Linked DNA regions of Homo sapiens: region 2 is linked to region 1. Evidence: fine-mapped expression QTL. Tissue or cell type: blood mononuclear cells. Region 1 holds a variant in brackets; the other region holds the start of a gene. All regions are shown on one strand. Distances are from middle to middle.

Region 1 (5,621 bases):
CAAGAGTTCCCTTTTCTCCACATACTTGCTAGCATTTATTATTGCCTGTTTTATGGATATAAGCCATATCCAAGACATTTGGGGTGAAATGATATCTCATTGTAGTTTATATTTGCATTTCTCTGATGCTAATGTTGAGCACATTTTCATATGTCTGTTTGCCATTTGTATGACTTCTTTTGAGAAATATCTATTCAAATATTTTGTCCATCTTTTGATCAGATTATTAGATTTTTTTCTATAGTGCTGTTTAATCTCCTTATATATTCTCGTTATTAATTCCTTGTCAGAAGGGTAGTTGCCAATATTTTCTTCCATTCTGTGGGTTGTCTCTTCACTTTGTTGATTGTAACTTTTGTGCAGAAGCTTTTTAACTTGACGTGATCCCATTTGTCCATATTTGCTTTGGTCCTTCCCACTCTTCCCTCCCTTTTCCAAAGGCAGAGGAGCCACCCCTGGCCACAAGGAGTACTGCCAGACTACCACTGATTTTCCCTTAAGTCTCAAGGTCTCTTAAGTCAGCTTGTGGTGAGTGCTGTCTGTCCTGGGACTCATCCTTCAGGGCAGTGCACTCCCCTCTGTCACAGGGCAGGTCCAGAAATGTCATTCAAGAGTAAACAGTCTTGACTTGCTGCTCTACACCCCTGTGGTGATGTTGGTACTTGAAGCCAGCAAGTCTCAGAGGCTCACCAAAACCCTTGATGTAGCATAGCACCTGGATATTACTGCTGGTTATTCAGAGCCCATGCTAGCAGGACTGGATCCCTTTCTTCAAATAGGTTCTCTTCTGGCCCAGGGTATATCTATAAATATCATCTGGCTGATAGGGCCTGGAATGGGAGCCTCTTGACTCTGACTGGTGCCATATCCTGCTGTGGCTAAGCTGGTATTTCAGGTGCAAGAAACGATCCTCCCCACTCTTCTCTCTACTCTCCTCAAGAGGAAGAAAAGGGTCTTTTTTGGAGCTGTGAGCTGTGCAGCCTGGGATTAGGGGAGGGGTGATGCCAGCACATTTTGCCTGCCAAAGCTGGTGTCACAGTATGTCATGTGGCCTTCTAATCCATTATCTCTAGGCCTAGTTAAGCCCTTGAACTCACCTAAGAGTTGCAGTGCTTATGGGCTAGAATGCCTTTCAAGTTTAGTTAGAGACTAAGAGCACTTTGGCCCTGGGTGGCAAGGTTTGCAGGCACTCAAGTTTGAACCACTGGGATTGGAAATTCCCCTCTGGCTAAGGCTGATTTGAATGCTCCCTCTGTGGGCAGGCATCAGCTGAGTTTGGTCTGGTTTTTCTTTTCTGCTCTAACAGAGCAGCACTGAGTTCAATGCTTCACAATTGCTGTGTTCTCCCTCCCCCAGTGCCCAGAGATACTCTCTGTACCAGGATTCCACTGCCAGAGATTGAGGAGGGGTGGCATCAGCAATTCAAGGCTGTTTTTTCTACCTTTTTGGTGCCTCTTTCAGTGATATGAAGCTAAAACCAGGTACTGAGTGCTCACCTTATTTTTGGTTCTTATAAAGGTGTGTTTTCTGAGTAGATAGCTGTTAATCTGATGTCCTTGCTGGGGGAACTATCAGTGAAGCTTTCTATTCCACCATATTCCTCTACCTCCCTTGAATTGGCTTCTTTATGATCATATAGATTGTAAGTTGAGTCAAATTCTTATCTGATTTTAAAAACTTTTATCATGTTCATATTATATTATATTACATTTGGCAGTATTATGTTATAATATGGTGCTGTAGTGTTGTGGGAATCAGAAGACCAGAGAGACCAATGGGTGGAACAGGAGGATTTTATTTAGGTGGCTACTGGCACAGCAGATTCACATCCAAAGGCTGAGCCCTGAACAAACACAGGGCTTGACTTTTATATACACTTCTGAAAGGGAATTGGCTAGTTTTAATGCAGTGGCAGGAAACTGAGGGCACAAAACCTGTGAGGCGGGCAGGCAGGCTTACAGAAGCAGAACAAAGGCAGTTAATCAAACTGTGACAGGTTTTGTAACCTAAGCATAGCTTGTGACCTTACAGCTGCATGGAAGGGAAAACAGGAACTTACAAAACTTGAGACACTGAGTAATGGTAAGGGGGAAGAGGAGATAGTAAAGGAATTTGTTTTTCTTATCCTTGCTCCAGGGAGGGGGAGGGGTTTGTTGGGAGAGTCTC[C/T]GGAGCTCATTCCTTTGGGCTCTGGCTTTCCAGATAGTGTTATTGAGACTTTGCCAGGGCCCTGCCTATTGCTGGCCTTGGAGTGAGTCAGCCAAGTATAGGAAAACTTGTTTTTCTCTTTTTAACTTCTGCTTCAATAGCTGTCCCTCAAGATTGTTGGATTGAACTGACTTGAACGGAACTGAATTGAATTTTCAGCATGGGCTGAATCATGGAATCAGCATGGGCTACCAGGCAGTCAGAAACCTTTGCTCAGGTCCAACCATCTCATGTTACAGGTGGGAAAATGGAAACATACAGTGGAGAGTGACTTGCCCAAATTCAGACAGCCAATAAATGGTTAAGCTGAGTTTCTTGCCTCCTGGATAAGTGTTCTTTCTTCCATTATGTTCTGTTCCCCTTTTATTTCCTTGGTTCATGCTGTACTGGAGTGAGATCAATGGGTCAACAAATACAGCTAAATCTCTATAAAAAATTATGCATGTCTTTACAGCATAATTTAGCTCATAACATTTTAAGATACATTTTGACAGCTGGTAATGATTATGGTTATTGATTAGACAATGCATTTTTATGCATCTAATTTTCTACATTTTTAATTTCAAATATTCTTTTAAAAACAGAAGTAGAAATGTGCCAGATCTTATGATAAGTGTAGGCTACTTAATTTGAAGCAATTGCAGTCCCTCATTAGTAATAAATTAAGTATTGAAGAGAGCAGATCACTTTAATGTGTCAAAAAGAGCCTTGTCACTTGACATAATTTGAGAAGTCAACATGTGCATTTTATAATGATCGTCCATATCCAGTATTTCTGATCTAGCTTACTCTCAGTTTCTATTACTCATGGGACTTACCCAAGACACTTGTTGAGTTACAAACAGAGCCAAATATAAAGAACAAAACAGTATCATAACTTGAATCTAAGAATAGTTGGAATGATATTTAGAACTGATCCACATCATGGAACGAAGTGTACCACCAGAAGAAGCTGCATTTGGTTGTGACTGTTTCTGTTACTCCAACATGTCTCTTCAAACCAGACAATTAAAAAATCAATTGTTTTTGTACTGATTTTTACCAAAGCAGTTTCAGTGAAAAACAAATTTTTAAAAATCCTCAACCCTCAAAATACTAATTAAAAGTATCAGTTTAGTTGATTTTTCTTTTGAACATTTTTGACCTAAATGCTTATAAACAGTATCATTTTGTATCTTTTAGTAACTATGGGCAACTGTTGAGTGAGTTCAGTCAATGATTAAATTAGTCATAAAAAATGAGTTTTGATAACGAGAAACAAAAAAGATGGTGAATGGTGAATTTAAGATTAAACCAATATTGACTTGATATAAATACAACAAATCAAGTCTCTCACATCATAAAAGTGTTTGGCTTTCTGTGAGAAATTTACCAAATGCTTTTTTATGATATTTTTACCAAATTTAGAAAAACAGGGAGCGCCAAGCAATTATTTAGCAGAAAGGCTAATAGACATAAATATCATAACAGCATCTTGTAAATGATGAAACTATATCATCAAAAGGAAAAGACAGAAATGCAATATGAGTACAAATATTTATAGGCACAATCTGCCCATTTGACAAGTACTGACTGAGTACCTACTACTCTGAGCAAACCACCAGGACCAGTGGTACACAGGTTGGAAACCTGACTATGGCAGGAGGCACACAGTCCTGCCCTCCAGGAGCTTTCAGTCTGTAGTGGGGAGAGCAGTACAGCACTAGCTGGAATAAAAGGTGTTAAGAGAAAGGAGGGAAAACACAGAATGAGGTCAGGGAAGGGAGAGAACACAATTTCAGCAGAGGAGGTATTTGAAATTGCATAGTGAGTATCTAGAGCTGACACTCCAGTTGAAAAGACTGCCAGTCTCCTGGGCACACTACTCATTCTAATGTAGTGTGATCAGGTTGTGCCAGTGGTGTAAATGGAATAGAAGAAGATCTGGGAAGATGCTTAAAGACAGTCATATGTGAGCTGGACTTAAAAACTAATAAAATATAGTGCTAGAGAAGTAAGTAGGTGCCTAATCATTTAAGGTCTTAAACACCATTTTAAGATATTTGAATTTTGTCCTGTGAGCAATGGAGAACCATCAAAGGGTAGTTAGCAGAGGAGAGACTGGTCGTATTTGCATTTGAGAAAGAGCACCCTGGCTGGAATGTAGAAAATAGATTGGAGGGAAGGGGAACAGGCAAGAAGGCAGGAAAATTTATTGAACTAGTTTTTAAGTAGAAGATTATTATGAGAGCCTAAGAAGGTCGTGGTGAGACTGGAGAAAGTGGAATCTATTTGCCAGTAGAAGTGAAATGGAAATGATAAATCTTAGAGATATACTAGGTAGAACTGATTGGACAGGGTAAGTGACTGGATTTGAAGGTATAGGGAAAAAGGAGATAAAATTACCCACTCTGGTTTTAACTTGGCTGGCCACATAATGAGTAATAGCATTGTATTAACGTGTATAACACAGAAGGACTGCATTTCAGTGTGAGTGGTGGCAAGGGGAGGAAACCGGGAAGAAGAAAGTGAGAAACTGATCTAACTCTATGAGAGCAAGAAATACCTTATTTTTTCTTATTGCAGCTTCAGCGCCTAGCTCAACAAATACTAAAATGGTTTAACGAGAAAAATGAATTGTTTTCAAAGTGCCGTCGAAGGTATTTGAATCTATGAACAGAGCTGTAGACTGAAAAGAAAGTCCGTTTCATGCATTGACCTAGTACTTAGTGAGCATCTCCTATATGCCAGGGAGAATTCTAGGTATTGAGGATATATCAGTAAGCAAAACAGTGGCAATCCTATCTCCATAAACTTATATTCTAGTTAGGCGGGAAAGACAATAAACAAATAAACATGTAATATTTCAGTTGATGATAAATGCTACGAAGAATATAAAGCAGCATAATAGGGTTAGAAAGTGACAGGATGCTTTTAATATAAAGTCATCAGCGAAGGTCTCTCTGAGAAGGTGATATTTGAATTAAGACCTGAAAGAAAGGGAGTGGGACATGTGACTATTTGTGGGAACAATATTCCAGGTAGAGAAAATAGCAAAAATAACAATATCGTAAGGTAGTAGCATGCCTAATACCTTCAAGTTCAACGAATAACAAGGAGGTGAGTGTGACTTGAAGAAAGAGAGCAAGAGAAGGAGGTATAGAAGATGAGGTCAGAGAAACAAAGGACTGGATTAGGTAAATCTTTAAAAGCTGGTATAAAGACTTTGTTTTCTTTCTCTGAATGAGGGCGGTTCCCTTGGATGGTTTGGAACAGAGGAGTGACATAGTCTGACTTACTTTTTAACAGAATCACTTTGCTATATAGAGAGTAGTTTGTAGAAAGGCAAGAGTAGAAGCCAGTTAGCAGACTAGTTACACTAGTTAGAAGCCAGTTAGAAGACTCTGGAAGTCATCCAAGCAAGAGGTCATGATTGC
Region 2 (5,621 bases), 55 kb after region 1:
GGCAAGAGAGAGAAAGAGTCCAGTTGGTCCACCAAGGAGAGAGGAAAAGAGGTACTGAAAGGGCAAGAGACCATGGAAATGTGGAGAAAGGAAGAAAAAGAACTCGGAGAAGGGAGCTACAAAGAGGGTAAAGGGAGCACTGAATGTATGCGAATAAAGCCTCACACTCCGGTGGTACCACTGAAACATGCACATTTAAACATCAAGGGAAAAACGCAAAAAAGAAAAGAAAAAGCCCACAAAGTACCAGCTGGGTACCAAGAGCCTTCTCTGTGGCTGCTGGGAGCTGTCCGTCTTCCTCTCGGTGCCCTGAAAGACCCTTGGCTCTCACGACCAGCCAGGACTGAACAAACCTAGCCCGACCAAAAACAAATCCTGCATCCACCGGAGTGCAGCGCCTGGCACTCCGCGACTGGGAGGAGAGAAGCGGCCTGAGGGGGGCAGAACACTGATGGGCTTCAGGGCGGTGGGCCGAGGTGGCTCCCCGAGAGCTCCCTCGGGAAACCCCGCTGGCCCGCCTAAGGCTCGGATGGAGGTGGAAGAGGTTCGCGGAGAGACCCGGCCATTGCCGCCCGGGTGCGCTACCTCGGGCGGGCGGCGAGGAGGCTGGAGGGGCTGCTAGCGCGTACCGCAATGTTTTGCCGCATCCCTGTTCCCGGAGCCGGCCGCTCAGCCCCCTCCGCGTCAGGGGCCCAAGCAGCAGCCTGGCGGTCCGTGTAGCGGAGGCGGGGTACCGCGCGGGATGTCGCGGGGGCCTTCAGTCCCGCCGCTCACACATTTCTCCGCGCGCTCCCGTCCCACAAGGGGCAGCTGCCGGAGTTTCAGTGGACCTCTCTAGACCCAGGCGTGCGGTGGGTGAGGAGGAAGAGAGGCCAGATCAGGCCGCCTCGAAGACGTTGGCACTAGGGAGTCACTGACCTGCTTGCCACGGGCAGAGTGACCCTGTGGTTTTGTGGCTGCGAGCGGCGGCCCAGGCTCCCCCTTGCCTGTTCTCCCTCCCTGGCCAGCTACAAAAATCCTGCTCTCACCATGCCAGAAATCAGCTCAACATTTAGGCCCCTTGCAAAGTCGCGCTGGCAGCGCTCGCCTGGCTTTGCAGAGCTTTTAGAGTTACCCACCGGCTCTTCCTCTGGTATTCCTAGTCTTGCCGAGCGCTAGCAATCTCCGACCAACCCGCGGGCCACTGCCCCGAGCCTCAGATCCACGTCTGCGGAAAGTGGCTGCGAGTGGGGTGCAAAAATAAAGCCCAACCCAGCCCAGCGGCCCGACAGCCGGAGCCACCCGAGACCTGTACAACTTGCCCCGCCGCCCTGGCCGCTTGGGGTATGGTGGGGGGGGGGGCGGGCAGCGATGCCAAGGACACCCGGATCCTTTCCGGTCCTCAGCGGCATGAGACCGCGTCGTAGGCAGGCAAGTGGGAGGTGGAGGGCAGGATTAGCCACCTCGGCCACTTTGGCCACTCAACCGGCCCCAAACCAACAGGACCCAAACTAAAAATAATAAGCTACCTGCCCCCTCGGCTCGCGTGCGCGCGCGCGAGATCTCTCTCTCTCTCTCTGTCTCTCTCTCACACACACACACGCACGCACACGCGCTACTGAGCTGAGCGGGGAAGAGGCAGCACGCGTGTCGGTGCAGCTTGTGCAGCCCCCGCTGAAAATTCACCCACCTCTAGAGCCCAGCGTCTGGTGCAGGGCCCGCGGCGCCGTGACCTGCGCTGCTGTTTCCACGATGGTATCTATGTGATTCCGGACAGAGCTCCTCCGCGCCCGCTCGCCCGTCAAACCCACGGAGCAGCCCCAGCAGGCGAGCAGGCGGGCCGGCGGGCAGGCGGGCAGCGGCGCGCGCGCGCACCCGAGCAGACACCGCGCGCGCACCCAGCGCCTAGCACACGGGCTGCACCTTTACATACACGCGCTGAATCCCCGCCCCCGCTCTCCACCACCCCCCCCCACCCCGCACACAAGCAGTCCTTCCTCCCGACACTCGACCACTTTGACCCCCTCACATTCCTGAGCTCCTACCCCCGTCCCCCATCCAGACATGCCCATTTGATTCCTCTTCTACCCACACACCCAGAAAGACAGCGCGCTTTCCTCCCGGCATCCGCCCCCTCTTTTTGCCTAAAACATTCCCTAGGGAGGAGCGACCCCTTTCCTCAGGCGTGGAGACCCCAGTCCTCTAACAAGGGCGCACTCGCCTCCATCCCCCCCACCACATACACACACACTCGAGCCCTTTTCTTCTCTTCCAGTCCCCTAATAACGAAGGAACACACACACACACACACACACACACACACACACACACACACACACACGGGGCATTCCTTTGAGAGAGCAACCAAGAAGCCAGGAAAAGCCAAAGAAACACTGGAGAGCCTGGGGGAGGGGGGCCGAGGGAGATCGATAGGGTCGTCGAGTCTACGCGGAATTGAATAATTACAGGATGGAGGGGAATGAGTCAACAACAATGACATTCAAATGCAACAATCATACTTGGATTTTGTATCACGGGTACGGTACCTTTGGCTAATTGTCACCCCGCAGAACGGAGGGCTCCTGGAATACTTCTCCGTGGCGGTCGATCCTGGAAGGAGCCTTCTTGGGAACCAATTTCCTAGGATCCAGTAGTATTCGCACTCCCCCTACCTGTCTGCGCGTAAGGGGCCAGGGGCTTTAAGGCGAAAGTGTGAGGCTTTAGCCTAAAGTGAGACTATTTAGCCGGGTTAGAAGGAGACGGGTTAATTATCCGCACCTTAGAACTCCGTGGGCCTTTGGTGCAGAATGGGTTAAGCCGGATGATCTTGGAGCTGGGGGTGGGGATAGGGGATAGGGGATAGGGGTTGAGGAAAGAGAGGCGTGGGACTGGGAGAGATGCCGCACTTGCGACCAAAAGAAAAAAAAAAAAAAAAACTACTTTGGCTACTGAGCATGCCCAGTTCCCAGCTCAAGCCCTATAAGGGAGGCATTGTGTGCATTCCACTTCTCCGGGCTTTGGTGGTGACCGGGAGGGGAGTTTGACTGGGGAAGGGGGTGGTAGTTGGGAGACATTAGGGAAAGGGGGTTGGAGAACAAGGTTTGAAGCTTTGGGACTGCTCAGGAGGGACTGTGAAGAGAGAAAGGGAAGGGACCCACGGAGTACCTTCGGGAGACGGGGAGAAGGAGAGGAAATGGACTAAGAAAAGTCACTTCAGTCGCCCCTCATTGTGTATACCAAAGAGGCTTTAGCAGCTGAATCTGAAATATCCAGTGGCTGCAAATCCAACGTGTGGATTGTCTAGGCCCCTTCTTCTACCCTTTTTGTTAGTGCTTCCACAAGAGATAAGAAATATTCTGAGGAAGGGCCAATGTTCAAACCAGTTTCATGCAAATTGATAATTTCGTTAATAAGCTTGTTAAGAAAATAAATAAACCTGGGGGAGGGGAGCAGAGAGGAGTTGGCTATCATGTATGTATTTCAGATACCTGGCTTTCCTAAACAAAAGGCATAAACATTGGATGTGCTCCCATCCCCCAACCTTGCTGTTTTTTGTAGGAGCTTGGCTAAGAAAAACAACTCTCTCTCTCTTCGTGTCTGTGGGAATAAACTAGCTTTAGGTAAGTAGAGCTAAGTTATAAATGGGAAGTATTTCCCTAGGACTCTTGGTAGCCTATTATTTGCCACATTCAGGTAATACTGCCAGGCCCATTTCTTCAGGACCAGTGTGTTGCCCAATTTACTTATTCAAATCCCAGCGGCTCTAGCCACAATAGAGCACAACCGGTATCCAGAAATGTTCTTGCTTAAAAATGAAAAAAAAAATCTTTAAGCTAAAACTAGCAACAGCTTTGAAACCAGAATTTGGCTGTCTGCCTGAACTCCTACAGTTAAACATTTACCATAATTGGTTGATGTTTAAAGGCCCCAAATCTAGGTAGAAACATCTGATGGGCAAAGGATTTATTACATTATTTGTGAATAATGGTCTACCTTCTGTATCATCTATAGTAGTCATTCATATACATGTTTCATTGTTTTTCATTTTTTGTCATTTTATGGGACTTCCGTCAGGTTATATTCACACAAATGTTCACCGGGCACAACATGTATACAGAGATGCACGTACAATATGTAAATGAATACTTAAATAGATATGCGTGTATGGGCATATTTCTTTATGACCTTGCTAAATATTGTGTCGTTCATGAAGAACTCTTTCTCTACCTTCACTCCACATTGCCTTGAAAACTGTAATCATCCTCTCTTTTACAAACAACCTAGAGACAGAAATTGGGCAGCATTGGTAAAATTTATCTTATTCAATGTGAAATCCATTATGAAATAGCATTAAGGAAACACTAAAATATTTGTCTATAACAGCGTATGTAATTGTGCAGCTCCTTTTAGCAAAGTGAATGATGTTTCCTTCATAGGTAACAGCTGCAGAATGTTGAAAAATCCCTCTACTCTTGCACACTTGGACAAAACAGATCCTGCTAATTAATAACTCACATTTGCATTTTATTGTGTAATGCAGTTTGAAAGTAGTAATGGGTATCAAAACAAGTTGGCATTTATTCTAAATGCTAACAATTCAGGAAGCTGAATATATTTTATCCAGATAGGTGAAATGTTTGTCTTTTACTACAAATGTTAACAAGAGTCAATAGAATGAGCAAAAAAAGTTTACCTGAAAATTCTAAGTAATGTGATAACTGAAAAGGCCAGATTTGGACAGTAAATATCAGATGATTTAAATGCCTATCTTTATTCAACTTTAGAAACTGTTCTGAGACTTGGCTATATTTAACTGCAATAACTGTGAAATGTTATTTTTCATATGGATATGGAGACAAATCTGAAAGCCACTGTAGCTAGATCATCGATAAATTACAATTCATAATATTCCTAAGAACTTATCTGTGATTAATATTCAACTTTTTTAAATGAATGCTTTAAAATAAAATGTTTTGCTACTTAAAAAGATAAAGTGGACACTCATAAAATAAAACAGAAGTAACAACTTCCATGTTTTATGCTTATTTTGCTTTCAAAGTAATTAACCCAATCCTTTAGTCCCACAGTCCCTTTTCCGTCCCCTAGAACTACAGGTGACATCCCAATAGAACAGTAGGAAATGACACAGAATTGCTAGCTTAACAAAGGAAGTGAATATATACATAAATAAAAGTGTTAAGAAAACTCCAGCACTATTTATGGCCATTGAAAGAAAAACAAAATTGATGTTCTTCCTAAAATGTAAGCATGCAAATATTGTGAGTTTTGCAATACTCTCACGGTCTTCCTCCAAATGTTTTACCTTATTTCATCTTGACTTTTTAGGAGTACAACCAGAATCGTAGGTCTACACTGATATACTGTGTCTCCCTCCATCAGGGAAAAAAACAACTGCACTAAGAATTTCAACAAGATCCTGTATACCCTCCGTTCCGAAGGCAGTTTGGAATTAAGTCATTAAAACACTACCAACCGAAAGTGATTATAATGCCAAGTCTTGGCCCTAGTCAGCGGTCTTTCACTTTCACTGTATTCCTCATTTATCTTGCCTTGTCTTAGGCTGCTGCTCAAAATCAAATCAGCCTTAATTTTCGTATCCAGGTATCACAGATGATTCAGTG

The links. PIP is the estimated chance that this variant, and not a neighbour inherited with it, causes the effect.
Region 2: it holds the start of SLITRK4, and the variant in region 1 is fine-mapped to the expression of SLITRK4 in blood mononuclear cells (TOPMed, PIP 0.92).

What each region holds. Positions count from the first base shown.
Region 1 is chrX:143,578,416-143,584,036 of GRCh38, forward strand. No RefSeq gene overlaps it. Among named protein-coding and RNA genes, the nearest start is that of SLITRK4, 55 kb to the right of the region's middle. The variant C/T (reference allele first, on the strand shown) is at 2,167.
Region 2 is chrX:143,633,210-143,638,830 of GRCh38, forward strand. SLITRK4 (SLIT and NTRK like family member 4) reads right to left here and starts at 2,892. Exons shown (of 2, transcript NM_001184749.3): 1 at 2,526-2,892.